2 separate regions of the Homo sapiens genome follow, and region 2 is linked to region 1. A link means that fine-mapping ties the variant in region 1 to the expression of a gene that starts in the linked region. Tissue or cell type: lung. Region 1 holds a variant in brackets; the other region holds the start of a gene. All regions are shown on one strand. Distances are between the middles of the regions.

The links. PIP is the estimated chance that this variant, and not a neighbour inherited with it, causes the effect.
Region 2: CCDC144A starts here. The variant in region 1 is fine-mapped to the expression of CCDC144A in lung (GTEx, PIP above 0.99). The same link has a PIP of 0.9 or more in atrial appendage, esophagus mucosa, esophagus muscle, left ventricle, skeletal muscle and thyroid.

Annotation. Positions count from the first base shown.
Region 1 is chr17:16,835,836-16,843,945 of GRCh38, reverse strand. It overlaps the pseudogene KRT17P1. Among named protein-coding and RNA genes, the nearest start is that of FAM106C, 51 kb to the right of the region's middle. RefSeq lists enhancers at 3,158-3,707, 7,858-8,110. The variant G/T (reference allele first, on the strand shown) is at 4,378.
Region 2 is chr17:16,686,213-16,694,322 of GRCh38, reverse strand. CCDC144A (coiled-coil domain containing 144A) reads right to left here and starts at 4,082. Exons shown (of 17, transcript NM_001382000.1): 1 at 3,579-4,082; 2 at 1,274-1,344. The coding sequence starts at 3,922. It also overlaps the pseudogene RNU6-405P. RefSeq lists enhancers at 4,189-5,092, 6,880-7,380.

The DNA.
Region 1 (8,110 bases):
ACTCGACCCTCTCATCAGCCCTTCCAACCCCTTAGAGTCCTGGCAAAATGAAGGCAGGTGAGCAGCCAGGACCTGGACCTGCAATTCCAAGCAGCCTGGGCTGAAGTCCCTGATTCCCATGGCAGGTTTGAGACAGAGCAGGCCCTGTGCCTGAGTGTGGAGGCCGACATCAATGGCCCGTGCAGGGTGCTGGATGAGCTGACCCTGGCCAGAGCCGACCTGGAGATGCACATTGAGAACCTCAAGGAGGAGCTGGCCTACCTGAAGAAGAACCACGAGGTGAGGTGGCTGGGGCAGAAGGTCAAAGATGCTGAGGAGTGGGTGGCAGAGCCCTGGGGCTGGGCCATGGCTGAGGCCGTGGGAGAGAGCAGAGCAGGCGCACTGGGATTAGTCACCTTAGAGGGCTTCCCTGTCTGCGGAGCCCTGATCCTTGGGGTCCAGCGTGCAGGGCAGACTCCTCTTTGTACCACACTGCTTCTCTGTACCCAAGGAACCTCCCAGGGGCCCGCAGAGGCTCCCTCTACCTGCCCTGGCCTCCCTCACGAGGGCAGGGGATAAGTAAGGAAGTCTCCTTCTTGTCCCATTTCAAACTCTCAAAGCTGAACATCTACACAGAAGCTTGGAAATTAGAGGGGAAATTTTTGGGGCATAGGCCTAATAATTAGATTTTATTTTGGAGAGCCGTTGGTCTAATGGGGGAGATAGAGTCTGATGGTGGAGGCAATACTGAGCAGATGAATAAAAATCATTTAGAGGGTCAGATAGAGCAGAGGAAGAACAAAGGAGGGGTCCTTGTGGGGAGTGGGGTCACCTCGTGGGGGAAGGCTTGGGAGTGAGAGATCAGGATGGGTCCAGATGCGCACATCCACATCCCCTTTTTCCATAGGAGATGAACGCCCCGCGAGGCCAGGTGGGCGGTGAGATCAATGTGGAGATGGGCGCTGCCCCAGGTGTGGACCTGAGCCGCATCCTGAATGAGATGCGTGAGCAGTATGAGAAGATGGCAGAGAAGAACCGCAAGGATGCCGAGGATTGGTTCTTCAGCAAGGTGGGGGCTGCTGCAGGCCAGAGGTCTCTCTTCGGGGCTGGGGCTCAGGGGCCTTAGCACTGACAGTAAGCCCACGGCCAGGTGTCTTGGAGATGCTCCCTCCTCAGAAAGCTGCATGGACCACAGGGTCACCCACTGCATCAAGAGACCTGGAGCTGAGCTCAAGCTGGGATCTGGGGGGTGGGTGGGGAGGTAGGGAGCCCCCACAGAATAAAGGCAGAGGGTAAAGATCTTGGGAGTCCCCACCTCTCTCTCAAGAAGTCAGAAACTAGCACCAAGAGCCAGGCTAATGTTCTGGCTGGTTCTCAAGTTTCCGGTCTGTGCCTCCCACACGCAGGGATTAACCATAAAAAGTTAACATTTCAAATGGCATGTTTCTGGGCTTTGGGACGTGGGAAGCTGGTGAGAACGCATCACTCTGTCCACAGTTAGATTTGGGAGGAGGCCTGACTGAGGAGAGGGATCCAGGCTCACACAACCCTGTCCTGTGTTCTGTCTGCAGACAGAGGAGCTGAACCGCGAGGTGGCTACCAACAGTGAGCTGGTCCAGAGCGGCAAGAGCGAGATTTCGGAGCTCCGGTGCACCATGCAGGCCTTGGAGATCGAGCTGCAGTCCCAGCTCAGCATGGTAGGAACAGTCCTGTGCATGGGGATGGGCCCAGAAGAGGACACTGACAACCCTCACTGACCCCTGGTCTTCCTGCCCTCCTGCAGAAAGCATCCCTGGAGGGCAACCTGGCGGAGACAGAGAACCGCTACTGCATGCAGCTGTCCCAGATCCAGGGGCTGATCGGCAGTGTGGAGGAGCGGCTGGCCCAGCTTCTCTGCGAGATGGAGCAGCAGAACCAGGAGTACAAGATCCTCCTGGACATGAAGATGCGGCTGGAGCTGGAGATCACCACCTACCACCGCCTGCTGGAGGGCGAGGATGCCCAGTGAGTGGGGGAGCCTGGGGTCAGGGCTGGGGGCCTCTTGGCGGGGGGGGGCTCTCAGACTCACATCTAATTTCCTCTCTGTTTTTTTTTTTCTTTCAGCCTGACTCAGTACAAGAAAGAACATAAGCATCTTGGTGGCTGAGGCCTTGGGGATTGGGTGCAAGGGACAGGCAGCCCACCTGCACGTTGCTGGGGCTGAGTCCCCAGGAGTTCTAGGAGTTGATGGCTGTCCCTCAGCAGGGGTGGGAGAAGTGACCCATTAGCACTGAGGATTGATACTCAGGAAAAGATCAAATGAGAGAGATGCTGTCTGCTCTGATGGGGTGGGCCAGGGAACTGGTCCTTACCTTGGAGATCCTAGTCTGATGGAGGAGACATGTCCCAGCTCTGGAGATTGTCATCTGATGGGAAGATAGGAACATGGTCTCATGATCTTTGCTCTTGACAGCTTTCGGATGAGCGAAAGCAGTCCTGTCTCTGGGGTCTCTAGCCTGATGGGAAATAGGGACCTGGTCCTTGTCCTCCAAATTCCAGTCTGATGGAGAAGATATGATTCTAGCCCCAGGGTTCCTAGTCTAATGGAGGAGATAGGGGCCTGGTTTTTGTCTTGGCGATCCCAGTCTGATGGGGGAGATGGGAGCAAATCTATGTCCTGGAGACTGCAGAGAAATGGAGATGGATTTCATGGAGTCTACATGGCTCCTCCCTGGCAGGACACACTGGGTCAGAATCAAATAACCCATCTGCGGAGGCAAGACTCACACAGGGCCACCGGCAGAGGGATGGGATGGAAGGGAGGCGGTGGCAGGGACAGGAGGGATGTGTGTGCAGTGTGATGTTGAGGTGCCAGTGGAGGCACTCACAGCACCTGGGGGAGGACGAGGGAGAGAGCCGGCTCCTGTCCATGAGGGCTAGGGGGCAAGCGAGGGCCTCCTGGCCCCTACCCACTTTAAATTGCCTGCTTCTCCTGCAGCGGTGACCACCTGTCAGGTGCCTACCATTGTGGAAGAGGTCCAGGATGGTAAGGTCATCTCCTCCCGCGAGCAGGTCCGCCAGACCACCCGCTGAGCACTCAGCTTTCCTGGCCGGCCCCCCAGGAGGCAGGGAGGCAGCGGTCCCATCTGCCCCGCGGTCTCCGGCCTCTCCACCCTCAGCCCCCTGCTTCAGTCCCTTCCCCATGCTTCCCTGCGTGATGACAATAAAGCTCGTTGACTCAGCTATGAAATGTGTCCTTGTTCTGGCCGCTGAAGTGGGCACTGGGGACAAAAGGGTGAAATGGGAAGGAGTGAGGGTGAGGGGAGATGGTGCGTGGAGACCCCGTTGTTGACTGGCAGGTCAGAGGTCAGCTTAGACCAGCATAAAGAGTAAGTCTGGGGAGAGTTTGGAGGGGGGTGCTCGCATCTCCCAAGGGCTGGAGATTTTCAGGGGGTGGTCCAGGCTGCGCTAGACCCGGGGTGGAGGCGGTGTATCAGGTGTGGTCCTAGGTCGCCACTGCTTGCCCCGTGAGTAACTCTGTGACCTCGGGAAGTTAGGCAGTCACTTCCCCTGACTGAGCCTTGCTTTTCCATCCGTAAATGGATGGGAAGATCTCAGGTGTGGGAGCCCGAATCCTCAGAGATGACTCACTCAATCAGTTGCTCCTTCCTGTCCTGTGGGCTGTGCCCTCCCCCTAGATGGGGCAGGAGGTGGGCAAGGGCTGGGATAAGCACAAAGGGAGGGTGGGTGGGGGAGGCAGGCTGGGTGATTGGGGCCCCGACTCCTGTGTGAGTCTCAGGAAATCCCCAAGAGGGGCTCCCATTGCCTCTGCCCTGGGAATGTGAGCGGGAGGGTGGTGTTTTCAGGGAAGGCTGCGGACCCCAGGCAGGTATGGGAGAAAGGGTGGGGCCTCTCTCAAGGATGTTTCCTCACATGGTCAGCTGTTGCTCAGGATGCGGACAGGGCAGAGTGGGGGGCACTGCAGATGGGGTGGCTGTGCCCAGGGAGCAGTGCCACTCTCCCTGGCGGTCTGGATCCTCTTTGGTTCCCCACTAGGGACAGGGGTGGTGTGAGGGAGGGTAGAAACTGCCTCCTAGGAAAATGAGAAGGAACAGTCCTGCTCCAGCCACTCCCGGCACCCTCTATGAGCTGACCAACCCCAGCTCTTGCTGGTGGCAGCAAACGTGGCTGTGGGGAGCAGTCTGTGGGAGGTGAGCCTGACACCTGGAAATCTTCCTTGTAGTAAATCTGGAAACTGCCAGGTGGGTTGGCCTGCTTTCCTGGTTTTCTTCAAGCAGGGGGTTAGTGGGAGGAGGGTGCCGCCACGTCATCACTGCTGCACCTGTGGTGTCTCTGCTGCTGCGGAATCAGACCAAGGCCCCCAAACACCCTCTCTCTCCTGGTGCCTGGAGGCTGGGG[G/T]TGGGGCCCAGGTCCGAGGAGAATGGGAGTGACCAGAGCCCTCTGAGCCTGGGTTGGTGGGGGTTTGGGACTGGCAGAGGCCAGGGATGGGGGTGGGTACTGACCACTGGGGTATGGGTGACTTTGGGCTGGTCACAAGCCCTCCCTGGACCTTGGAGCTATGACATCCCGGGAGAGTGTTTCTCTCTGCAGGGTAGATGGCTGCCTGGAGTCGGGGACTTGCACCTGCAGCGGCATCTGCACGACTCAAAGCAAGGGCAAGCTCTGCTCCGTTGGAGGCTGACGTCTCCCTGCTCTCTGGCAGCAAATGTGGGGCCATGGAGGGCAGGAGGGAGGCACTGTTTGCACCAGGCCCCCACCATACACCCCGCCACAACCAGAAGAACAGCCCTGGGCTGCAGATGGCTCATTCTGGAGGGTGACTTCATTTGTCTGAATAGTCCCCGGAAGCAGGGAGGGTCTAGGGGAAGGCGCCTTGTTGTGTGGATGGGGACACTGAGGCTCCAAGGAGCAGTGACTCAGCCCTTGTCCCACAGCCTGAGGGGTCAGTAGTGGAGACGGGCATGGGAGGGGAGTGGGCCCCGCTTCCGTGCTGGGAAGAGGAGCCAAGCCCCAGCTCCTCCCCCACCTCAGGCTCCAGGCAGGGCTATCTCTCCCTCCTGTAGAGCCTGGGGTCCACAATTACTGATGGCGTGAGTGAGGAGGGGTCAGAGTGTGGGAAGGACCAGAGACAGCCCCAGACTGTGCCCCTCTGCTGGGGAAGAAGCCCTTCTCCACAAAGTGAGTGGGTGGGAGGCTCAGGAGGCCAGAATGGGGGAGCCCCCCGGTGTGCCCAGAGAGCTGAGCCAGTAGAGGCAGTGGTTGCCAGGGGCTGGTGGGGAGACTTGAGTGACTTTGTCCAAGGACCCCAAGTGGGCCCAGGATGCTGGGGACATGTGCCTGGGCTGGATTGGGGACCCAGCTATGGGACTCAAGGAGGGACTCACAGTTCGTCCACACACTCCCTGCCCACTGCACAGAATGTCCTCAAGGCAGAAGCTGCGGATCTGTGGTTGCCCTGTAGAGCTGCCACACCTGGTCTCGTGTGATGGACACACATATAGGACTCTCAGGCCAGGCCCATGCCAGTGGTAGCTGCCTCCGGACCCCCCTTGCAGGGGTTGACCTGGCAGCATGTCTTCTACGGAGACGGATGTGGTGGGGGACACTCATCCATGGCATGACATCGCTCTGCGTCTGGTTTGCACTGAGTCCAGGGAAAGGAGGAGACACCGGTCCTGACCCCAAGAGACAGTGCCTGCCCCAAGGGGACCTGAGGGACTGACAACAGTCCCTCAGCCCTTATGCAGTGTGGGTCTATTGCGGCAACCAAGGTTTTGGGGAGATGAGGGGAACAGAGGGAGCAGAGCCAGGCAGGTCTCCCCACATGCACAGAGCCGAGGGGATAACTGAGCTTAACAGAGACCCGTCCTCACCCTGAGCTGTAGTGACCATTTGAAGAAACATCCCTGAGAGAGGCCCACTCTTTCTCCCACAACCCCCTGGGGTCTGCAGCCTTCCCTGGAGGCACCAGCTTCCCGCTCACACTCCTGGGGTGGGGGCAATGGGAGCCCCTCTTGGGGGTTTCCTGAGACTCATACAGGAGTCCGGGCCCCTTGTTTGTGCAGAACAGGCACCCCAAGTGGGTCCAGGCTGCTGAGGACATGTGCCTGGGCTGGACTGGGGACCCAGCTATGGGACTCATGGAAGGACTCACAGTTCGTCCACAGCCACCCTGCCCACTGCACAGAATGTTTCACCCCGTCATCAAGGCAGAAGCTGCAGATCTGTGGTTGGATTGTGAAGGGCTATGACAGCCCCACCTTCAGAAGGGGGGCGTCAAACTTGCAGGAGGGGAGAGGACCCCCGATGGTGGGCCTGGCACTCACAGATTTCCCCAGATCCCTGGAGCCATCACAGGGGCAGAGCCTGGGCCTGGACATTCGTTCTCCCCCAGGAACCCTGCTCCCTCTGTTTCTCTGCAGGGCCCCAGCACCCCATCGTGGCCTGACTTTAGTGTATTAGGATTGTCTTTACCACCTTCTCCCCCAGAAGACTATGTCTCCAGGGCTTCTCTGTCTTGTTCTTTGAGTCTGAGTGCCCAGCACAGTGCCAGGCACACAGTAGGTGCTTTATAAACACCTGCTCATAAACATAACGCTAGCCACCAGCCTTTGCCAGGTGCTTTATTTATTTGGCCTCAAATCCCCTAATATGCCTGTGACACAGGGCTGTTATTCCCATTTCCCAGACAAGGAAACTGAGGCTCAGAGAGGCTGAATATCCTGCCCAAGGTTTCGCCCCTGCTTGCCCCGATTCCAGGCTGCTCTGTCCTGGCTCAGTGGGGCTCTACTTTTCCTTCCTCCTGCCCTGAAGCCTGTGGCTCTGGCTTGTCCACCCAGGGCTGGGGGCCCTGCAGCAGCCCCCTCTCTCCCCTCAGCTTCTCTGCCCCACTCCTCAGCCCCCTAAGCTGCCTCCTGCCTTCCCAGTCTGAGTTGGCTGGGGAGCTTGTAAAACAGCCCCACCAGCAGGCTTGTCCTGAGTGGTGCTGATGCAGGAGTTGGAGCAGGGCTGCGAATCTTCTTGGGGACTCTGATGATCTGTCTGGTTGGAGAATCACTGCAAGCCAAGGCATGGCATTGGCCAATGGTGATTCCCGGCCTCCTCAGGTATGCTATGATCTCCTGCCTCATGCTTGACATGGGCAGGACGAAGGAGGGAGGAAGGAGGCAGGGTGCGGGGAGGAATCCTCTGCCTGGAGGATGCCCATTGGGCTTCTCTATGCTCACCAGGCTTAGTGGTCCTGGCTCTTGGCCACCTTGGGGCAGGTGTGCATCACTGATGCAGAGGAAACGCCTCCTCCTCCTCTGTCAACTCAGATCCTCTGAGGCCCTGCTGGTGCCTCCCTCTGCTGGGACCCTTTCAGGGATCAAGGCCAGGAGGGCAGCCCCCTCCTCTACTGCTGAGGCTCAGCGGGGTAATGCTTACCCCAGCTGCCTCCTGTGGTGTGGGCGTGGCAGGCAAGCCCAGTACCCTAGGGTTTCTAGCCAGGTTCTGCATTTTCCAGCGTTAGTTTTCCCTCCAGGGTCAAATGATAAGTTCTTCTAAGGTCAGAGACTATGTCATCATTTCCCTCTTCACCCCCAGCCCCCGAGAGCTGTGCACACGGCAGGTGCGTGATCTATGGAGTTGGCTGAGCAGTTTGGCGCGTTGGTCAGCAACTTCCTGCAGCTTCTCAGCCCACGCAGATCCTCAGGTCTGCAGTGCTGGGCTTGTGTATAATCCCACCCTGACACCTCCTGGAATGGGGAACTTGGCGGGGGGCAGTGAGCCAATGAGAAAGGGGTGTGTGTGCACGCACACACGGTGGGGGCAGAGAGTGAAGAGTTCTCGGAGACTCCACTGTGAGAGTCGGTGTGAATCCTGGCTTGGGAGTTGGAGCTGGCTCCGGTCTGTGCTCTCTCACTTTTGTGCTGCTTAACCTGGATAAGGCTTTCGCCCTCTCCGGTTGGGGTATTGATAGGCTTTGGTGACCTTGAAGACCATTTTCAGTTCTGAGGGTGATGGGTCTGTGGTTGGACTGGAACTCCAGGCCCACCCTGACACCTGAACGCTGAGGTTTTTGTCCAAGATTCCGGGGTCCCCTTTGTCCCTCTTTGGGGTGGGGGTGGGTGTGGGGAAGAGAAAGAGAGAT
Region 2 (8,110 bases), 150 kb after region 1:
AGGTGTGGGCAGCACACCTGGCCATTTCACAGTTCTTATTGCCATTTGTTTATGGTGCCAGAAAGGTATTGCCGAGTTTCCAGTTTTGAAACTAATTTCTTTTTTTTAGTGACACAAATCACTATGTAATATAGTTAGCCTTTGAACAACACGGATTTGAACTGCAGGGGTCTACTTATGAGCAGATTTTCTCCCACCTCTACCACCTGAGACAGCGAAGACCAATCTTCCTCTTCCTCCTTCTCCTTAGCCTGCTCAACTTGAAGACTATGATGAAGAGTTATATAATGATCCACTTGCATTTAATGAACAGTAAGCGTATTTTTTCTGCCTTATGATTTTCTTAACAGTTTATTTCCCTAGCTTCCTTTATTGTAAGAATACAGCATATTAATACATATACCATACCAAACATATCTTAATTGACTGTTTATGTTATCAATAAGGCTGCTGGTCAACAGTTAGCTATTAGTAGTTACGTTCTTGGGGGAGTCAAAAGTTATACACAGATGTTTGACTGCAGAGGGAATCAAGCATCCCTAAATTCCACATTGTTAAGGGTCAATTGTGATTGATATTCATTTACTAAACATAAGTCATTTATTTTAAAAATTAAATAGAAGTTCCAATTTCATAACAAGTCTAATTCATTATAAGGTGACTATAAAGAAAACATACAACTTACTAACTCAAAAATATCTTTTTCTTGGCCGGGCGCGGTGGCTCACGCCTGTAATCCCAGCACTTTGGGAGGCCGAGGCGGATGGATCATGAGGTCAGGAGATCGAGACCATCCTGGCTAACACGGTGAAACCCCATCTCTACTAAAAATACAAAAAATTAGCCGGGCGGGGTGGCGGGCGCCTGTAGTCCCAGCTACTCCGCAGGCTGAGGCAAGAGAATGGCGTGAACCAGGGGGTGGAGCCTGCAGTGAGCCGAGATCGCACCACTGCACTCCAGCCTGGGCGACAGCGAGACTCCGTCTCAAAAAAAAAACAAAAAAAAACACTTTTTCTTATTTATACAAAAATATCACATAGGATTTTAGGGACCATAATTAATTTTTTTTCAGACCAGATTGTTTGAAAAAATAAATGACCTACAATTAACTTTTTAAATAATTGTGACATCTAACCTACCAAGAAATCTAACCTATCAAGAAAGAAATAAAGATTTTTTAAAACTGCTCTTTCATGATCAAAACTTCCTTACTCTTACTTCTTTTTTACCTATGGTAGGACCACCAAAAATAATTCACTATCAGAAGTCTTACCTGGATTGTTATTTTGAGGAAGACTTTCAGGTGTCTGTTTTTCCTTATATTCAGGAACTAGTTGCTGAATGCTATGGATAAAAATGTAATAAATGAAATTACTATTTTAAAACAAATGAAAAATACCAAATATATTAAATTTTTAGAGTATTTCAAACAATATCAGAGTTAATATCAGAACTTTAATTATCCCATATACTTCAATTTGTGAGTTCTACCAACTTCTCTTTAAGCTTCTGAAGAAGAAAAAAAGATGAAGTACTCATGAATTGAAGGGAGTATAGCTCAGTAAATTAACTCACATTAGCTTGGCATAATGGAAAGCGTCCTAGCTCTATTACCAGCAGCTATTTATTCTCTGACAAGTTGCTTCTCTTAGGCTCAATGTATTCTTCTAAAAAGCAAGGATTTTACTGCCTTATTTCACTAGGTTGTTAAAGATTTAACAAGAAAACGTTTTGTAAATGCTCAGAGAAACAGTGAAGCAATGAAATAATTTGTTCTTGAGCTTTATTGAGGAAATGGTTTTGGAATCACAAATAAAACCCAATGTGTATTTTTCCAGAGGTTCTAATATTCAAATGTTGCAGTTTTCCAAAACTGTTATTAAGTTCTAGTTTTATTAGTTCTATTCTTTGTGGCTTATAATTTGGGGCATCACAGCTAGTTCATAGTTTGTAACTAAATTTACTTATAAATATATTATTTCATCAAACTAGATAACAACACTGTCCACTATTACTGAGCTCATCAATCACGCCAAGGGGAGAAAGCTAATAGATGTCAAGACCTAGCTTGGACTACTGTTCCATACAGACTCAAACTCTGAATCGGCAGATCTTTGTTAGAAGGATGCTCAATCCCCATGTTCATCTCCAACTGACATGGAAAACAAAATGCTACTTTTCTTTTTCAGTTCCATGAAAGACATGCAAGTTGACATTCTCTCATTTCTGAGATACATACTGACAATATATTTGCACACAACATCCCACGTGTTACTCAGCTCCATTGATCACCTTACTGCATATTTTTGTAGTGAAAAATCACAATTTTAATATTAGGTGATACCCAGTTTGCTTTGACTCACACTGTCTTTGGAACTAGTCAGCAAATAGTCAAATGAACTTCTAGTGACTGCGCAAAATATGGACCACTTCAAAAATCTGTGCATCATCCTTATGCAGGCAGGGGCCATGCTAATTTCTCTCCATTTTGTTCCAATTTCAGTATATGTTTGCTGCTGAAGCAAGTTTTGTTTGTTTGTTTGTTTGTTTGTTTGTTTTAGACTGAGTCTCGCTCTGTCACCCAGGCTGGAGTGCAGTGGCGCGATCTCGGCTCACTGCAAGCTCCGCCTCCTGGGTTCATGCCATTCTCCAGCCTTAGCCTCCTGAGTAGCTGGGACTACAGGCGCCCACCACCACGCCCGGCTATTTTTTTTTTGTATTTTTTAGTAGTGACGGGGTTTCACCGTGTTAGCCAGGATGCTCTCAATCACCTGACCTCGTGATCCGCCCACCTTAGCCTCCCAAATTGCTGGGATTACAGGCATGAGCCACTGCACCCTGCCAAAGCTCTCATTTTATACATGGATATTCATGAGTCATGGATGAGACTTAGCTCTGTTAAATCCAACTAACATACTTGAGACTCAGAATTCTGGTGATGGCTTCCTGCCACAAATCTGGGAAAGGATAATATGGGACATTCCACGATCTAAGAAAAGGGTCCTCAGCATACAGATCTGGTAGCAATGAAAAAAGGAAACTCCTCTCTTTCTGCAACATTATTTGAACTGAACCCCGAGGGCCTAAAGGATAATTTATCATGAAGGTCTTAGCTAAGTCTAGGCTGAGACAAAAGCATAACAGGCGGGGTTTCACCATGTTGGTCAGCCTGGTCTCGAACTTCTGACCTCGTGATCTGCCCTCCTCGGCCTCCCAAAGTGCTGGGATTACAGGCATGAGCCACCGAGCTCGGCCAACATGAAGTTCTTAAGGATGGAAGGAACCTGAGCGACAGTAGAATATGTCTGCTGTATAATAGGTATTCAGCTTATGTTTGATGAATAAATTGAGAAAATGGATAAACACAGTTGGGAAGTGCAATATTTTTAAAGAAAACTCCTGTAAAGTAGACCAACACTTTTGCAATAGTAATAATCCTTTATATTTGATCCCGTCTCACTAAGAGGCCTGGGCCCCTGACCCCTCTGACGTTTCCCCATCCCGGGTGCCGTGGGGCCTGCGGGCACCAGAAAGCCAGTGTCCCCGACAGGACGGCGCATCCTTCGCCTGGCCATTACCTCTTCTTCCTATCCCTCTTGTCCACGCCAGTGTCTCCAGGAGCTAAGATGTGCTCCACCCCAGGGACGTCGCCCGACCGGGCAGCTCTGTGGAGCTCGCCAAGATCTTCCAGGCGGACGTCGTGCTGGGGCTGGTCTAAGGCGCCCTCACCGTGCTTGCTCTCGCTGCCGACGCTGTTTTTCCACCAGCTGTAGGGGAAGCCCGAGGACCACTGGTCCCCCGGGTAGCCCAAGTACCACTGGTCCCCCTGGCTCCCGACGCTAGGGGTCTTCCTCGTGGCGTAGACTGCCGGCTTCGGAGACCCCTCAGCCCCTCCCCGCTTTTCTCCACCCCAGGAGGCCATCAGTAGCGAGCTACTGCCTCGGCCACAACCTCCCAGCAGGATAGCCCGCGGTTTCCAATCTGCGAAAGGAGGACCGCCAAGCCAGAAATGCCAAGCCAAGCGATCACTGCCACGCCAAGCCAAGCGACCACCGCCAAGCCAACAGCCACCGCAAAGCCTCGTGGGTAAGGCCAAGCCAATCCGTTACAGACCAGTGCGCCTGCCCACCTGTGACATCACGGAACCTGTGACTTCACTGCATCTGCAGCTCCAGCCTCCCAGAAAAAGACTCCTTGGCCTGCAGGTGGCGCTGCAGCTCCAGCCTCCCAGAAAAAGACTCCTTGGCCTGCAGGTGGCGCTGCAGCTCCAGCCTCCCAGAAAAAGACTCCTTGGCCTGCAGGTGGCGCTGCAGCTCCAGCGCCAACCTGGGCTGGCTGGTCCTCCCTCGGAGGTTTCGGGGTGGCGGTGCCCAGCCTGCCTGTCATGAGTGCCGCTTCACAGCGCCGCCGGCGCACCTGCTCCTAGGCTTGCTCGGTTCAGGGGTACGGGTCAGTTCCGCCCCCGGCTTGGCCACTGCAGCAAAGTTGCCCTAGGGTCCGCGCTGCCAGGACGCAAGCGGAGTCAGATGGCTGGGTCAGAGCGGCCTGTCAGCCCGGCTGGAAGGGCCTGCCCGACGCCGCTGCCCGCCCAGCTCCTACTCGGCCTGCGCCTGGAGCCAGGGACCAGCTCTGGGCATTCTGCTGCCTTAGGATGGGGCCAAGCAGCCGCTCCCCGCCGTGTGCCGCAGCCGCTGCGCGCATCTGCCCAGGGTCCGTGCAGCTGGCGACCCGGGCGGGTCGGGGAACGCCTGGTGCCACCAGGATTGCTCGCCTCTAGTCCGTCCTGACCCTTCAGCCCGCGAGCACCAGTGAGATTGAAGAAAAGTGACGGCCAGGCGCGGTGGCTCACACCTGTAATCCCAGCACTTTGGGAGGTTGAGGCGGGCAGATCACTTGAGGTCAGGAGTTTGAGGCCAGCCTGGCCAACATGGTGAAACCCTCTCTACTAAAAATACAAAAATTAGTTGGGCGTGGTGGCGCGTGCCTGTAGTCCCAGCTACTCCAGAGGCTGAGACAGGAGAATCTCTTGAACCCGGGAGGTGAACGTTGCAGTGAGCTGATATCGTGCCACCAAACTCCAGCCTGGGCGACAGAGCAAGACTCCGTCTCAAAAAAAGAAAGAAAAGAAGGAAGGAGAGAACGAAGCAAAGAGAAGGAAAGAAGGAAGGAAGAAAGGAAGAAAGAAAGGAAGGAAGGGTGACAAAGGAGAATCTAGAGAGCACTCAAATACTAATTCTTGAGGACAATTAAGACAGATAGCATTATGAAAAACAGATTTTGTCACTGAAGCCTCAGGGCTTCAGCCTAGATCCTGCGCTGCTCACCCACAGAAAGCCAATCACTGAGATGAGTATTGCAAAGGAAGAAGGCTTTAATCAGATGCTGCAGCCGAGGAGATGGGAGCTCAGTCTCAAATCCCTCTCTCTGACCAACTAAAATTAGGGATTTTTAGTATAGCAAAGAAGAAATGTAACTATGTATAAGAAAACATGAACTAGAAAGGCGTAAGGAAGCAATCATTTACAAAATATCTGTGGCCGGGCGCAGTGGCTCCCACCTGTAATCCCAACACTTTGGGAGGCAGAGGCAGGTAGATCATGAGGTCAAGAGATCAAGACCATCCTGGCTAACATGGTGACCCCTTGTTCTCTACTAAAAATACAAAAATTAGTTGGGCGTGCTGGCACGTGCCTGTAGTCCCAGCTACTCGGGAGGCTGAGACAAAAGAATCGCTTGAACCCAGGAGGTGGAGGTTGCAGTGAGTCAAGATCATGCCACTGTACTCCAGCCTGGCGACAGGGCTAGACTCCATCTCAAAAAAAAAAAAAAAAAAAAAAACAGAAAAAGAAAAAAAGTATCACCCTGCCTCCTCAATCTTGGCATAATTCCCCCTATGAGTGGTTTCTGGGGTCTCAGTTGGCATTTAGTCACACGTATGACATTGCACATATCGTGTGCACATCTGCACAGCTCAGCAGTGTCCTGGGTAGGCCTTGAAGGGTGATCTTCACGTAAGCCTGTGGCCTGAGCAAGAAAGCTGCACACGGGCAGCGGAGGAACCAGCAGGAGCCCAGTCCTCTGTGGAAAATTCCAGCACCACCCGCAAGAGCAGCTGCAGTGGAGACTGTGACCTGACAAGGATATATGCATGAAGATGCTGGTCTGAAAACAGACTCAGTTTAAGGGTGGCACTTTGAAAAAATATTGATACATGTCAGTGAGAAAAAAATAATTAGAAACAAAATATATTTATTAGAAATATTACAGTCATTTATCATACACTTTCCTATGAATAGTTAAATACATCTAATTAGCATGTCATATCCAAAAGTGCTGGGTACAATCTAGTGTGCTCTTTATAGACACAAGGCCACAGATGTATCAACTACACTCAACTAATGTAGTTAAAGTTAGTGTGCTAAAAAAAAAATTAGTGTGCTACTCAGGATGCTACAGATTTAGCAAAACTCTAACCTGGATCAGAGGAATGAAATGCCCCGTGAATTGAGGCAACTGTAGATATTCAAAATGCTTCTAAAAAGGCTGTGAGGTTATGTCCTTTACTGCATGTCATTGGTAGGGCATCTCAAAATGGCACTCGAGCTTTGGAAGAATGAGAACTATTGCTGGATTTGACAGTGGGTCTGCATCTATGGGCCCGAGTCCTCCATCTCCACAAGCCGCCCCTCAGTGGGGAAGAGGAGGGGGAGACTAAGGGAGTCTCCGTAATGTTCGTGGGCAGCAGGGAAGAGAACATGGCAGAGATTCCTCACCGCTGGAGGGCTTGTCCCCTGGGTATGTGTGTTTTTGTTTAATACCCACTGGCATCTACTTGGGTTGGTCTCTACAAAAGCTGTAAAAAAACAAATGAATGAAAAAGGAAAACAAAAGACTAATATTGTTTTTGAAATGAAAGGGGCTAGGACAAGAGAAATTCCTGAGAATGTTATCCCTGCGGGGGGCGGCGGGGGAGGGGGATGGGCTACCATCAGACAAGGAAAATTCAATCCCTGTTCAGTGCAGAGAACAGCGACTTCTCACCTTGAAAAACTCCCCCACTCTACTGAGGCTTGCATTTTGCAGCTGTCTTTCATGTAAAAATTATACATAAAAAAAGGATCTTCAGAACAACCAAAGAATTTTAAATGACTACATACTGACTGAGGGAAGATGGAAAGAAACCTGGCTGTTGTGGCCTCTGAAAGCCTCAGGACAGAAACCGGGAATGGCACACTCTGCTGAGTATAGAAAATGTAAGATGCTGACCTTGTTTTCCCAGTTTACCAACTTTCCACCTTCACCTGGTGCTCTGAGTTCTGTTAAAAACAGACCTAAAAACCCTACCCCTTGGCCTAGCTGGGGTGAGGACTGCCTCCCCCAGGTCCTGCACCTCCACACGCCAGCGGATGGCCTGGGGGAGCCTACTAGCTGCTGTGCTAGAAGGCCTATTCCTGCATCCCTGAGGCCATCAGTCACAGTTCCAGGACCCCAGCAGAACCTTCCCTTCCCTGAAACACCGCCTGTATTTCTTTTCTTTGTGTGTGTGTGTGTGTGTGTGTGTGTGTGTGTGTGTGTTTGTGTGTGTGACAGAGGCAGAGGTTGCAGTGAGCCAAGATTATACCACTCCAGCCTGGGCGACGGAGTGAGATGCTCTCTCAAAAAAAAAACAATTTTTTTTTGTGGAGTCAGAGGTCTTGCCATGTTGCCCAGGCTGGTCCCGAACTCCTGGGCTCAAGCAATCCTCCCATCTCAGCCTCCCAAAGTGCTGGGATTACAGGCATAAGCCACCATACCTGACCACCATGTGTACTTCTAGGGACAGGATATAGCATTCCTCTTCTATATGCACACCCACTGGCAACAAAAAAAATGGTAGTCGGGGAAACTCCTTGAGTTATAAAAATAAATTGCACATGGCCTTTCATGTTTCTTTCCTTCTTTTTAACCTAAAGAGAGCAGGATACAGACAAAAATGGAGAGTTTGGCCACAGTCACTGGCAACTTGGGCTCCCATTGGAGAGGGGCTGGTATGGTGCCAGCATGGAGGGAGGGAAATTGCAACACCATTGCCCAGAGCTGGTTCTAGATGGTTTGCACATAATTACTAAAA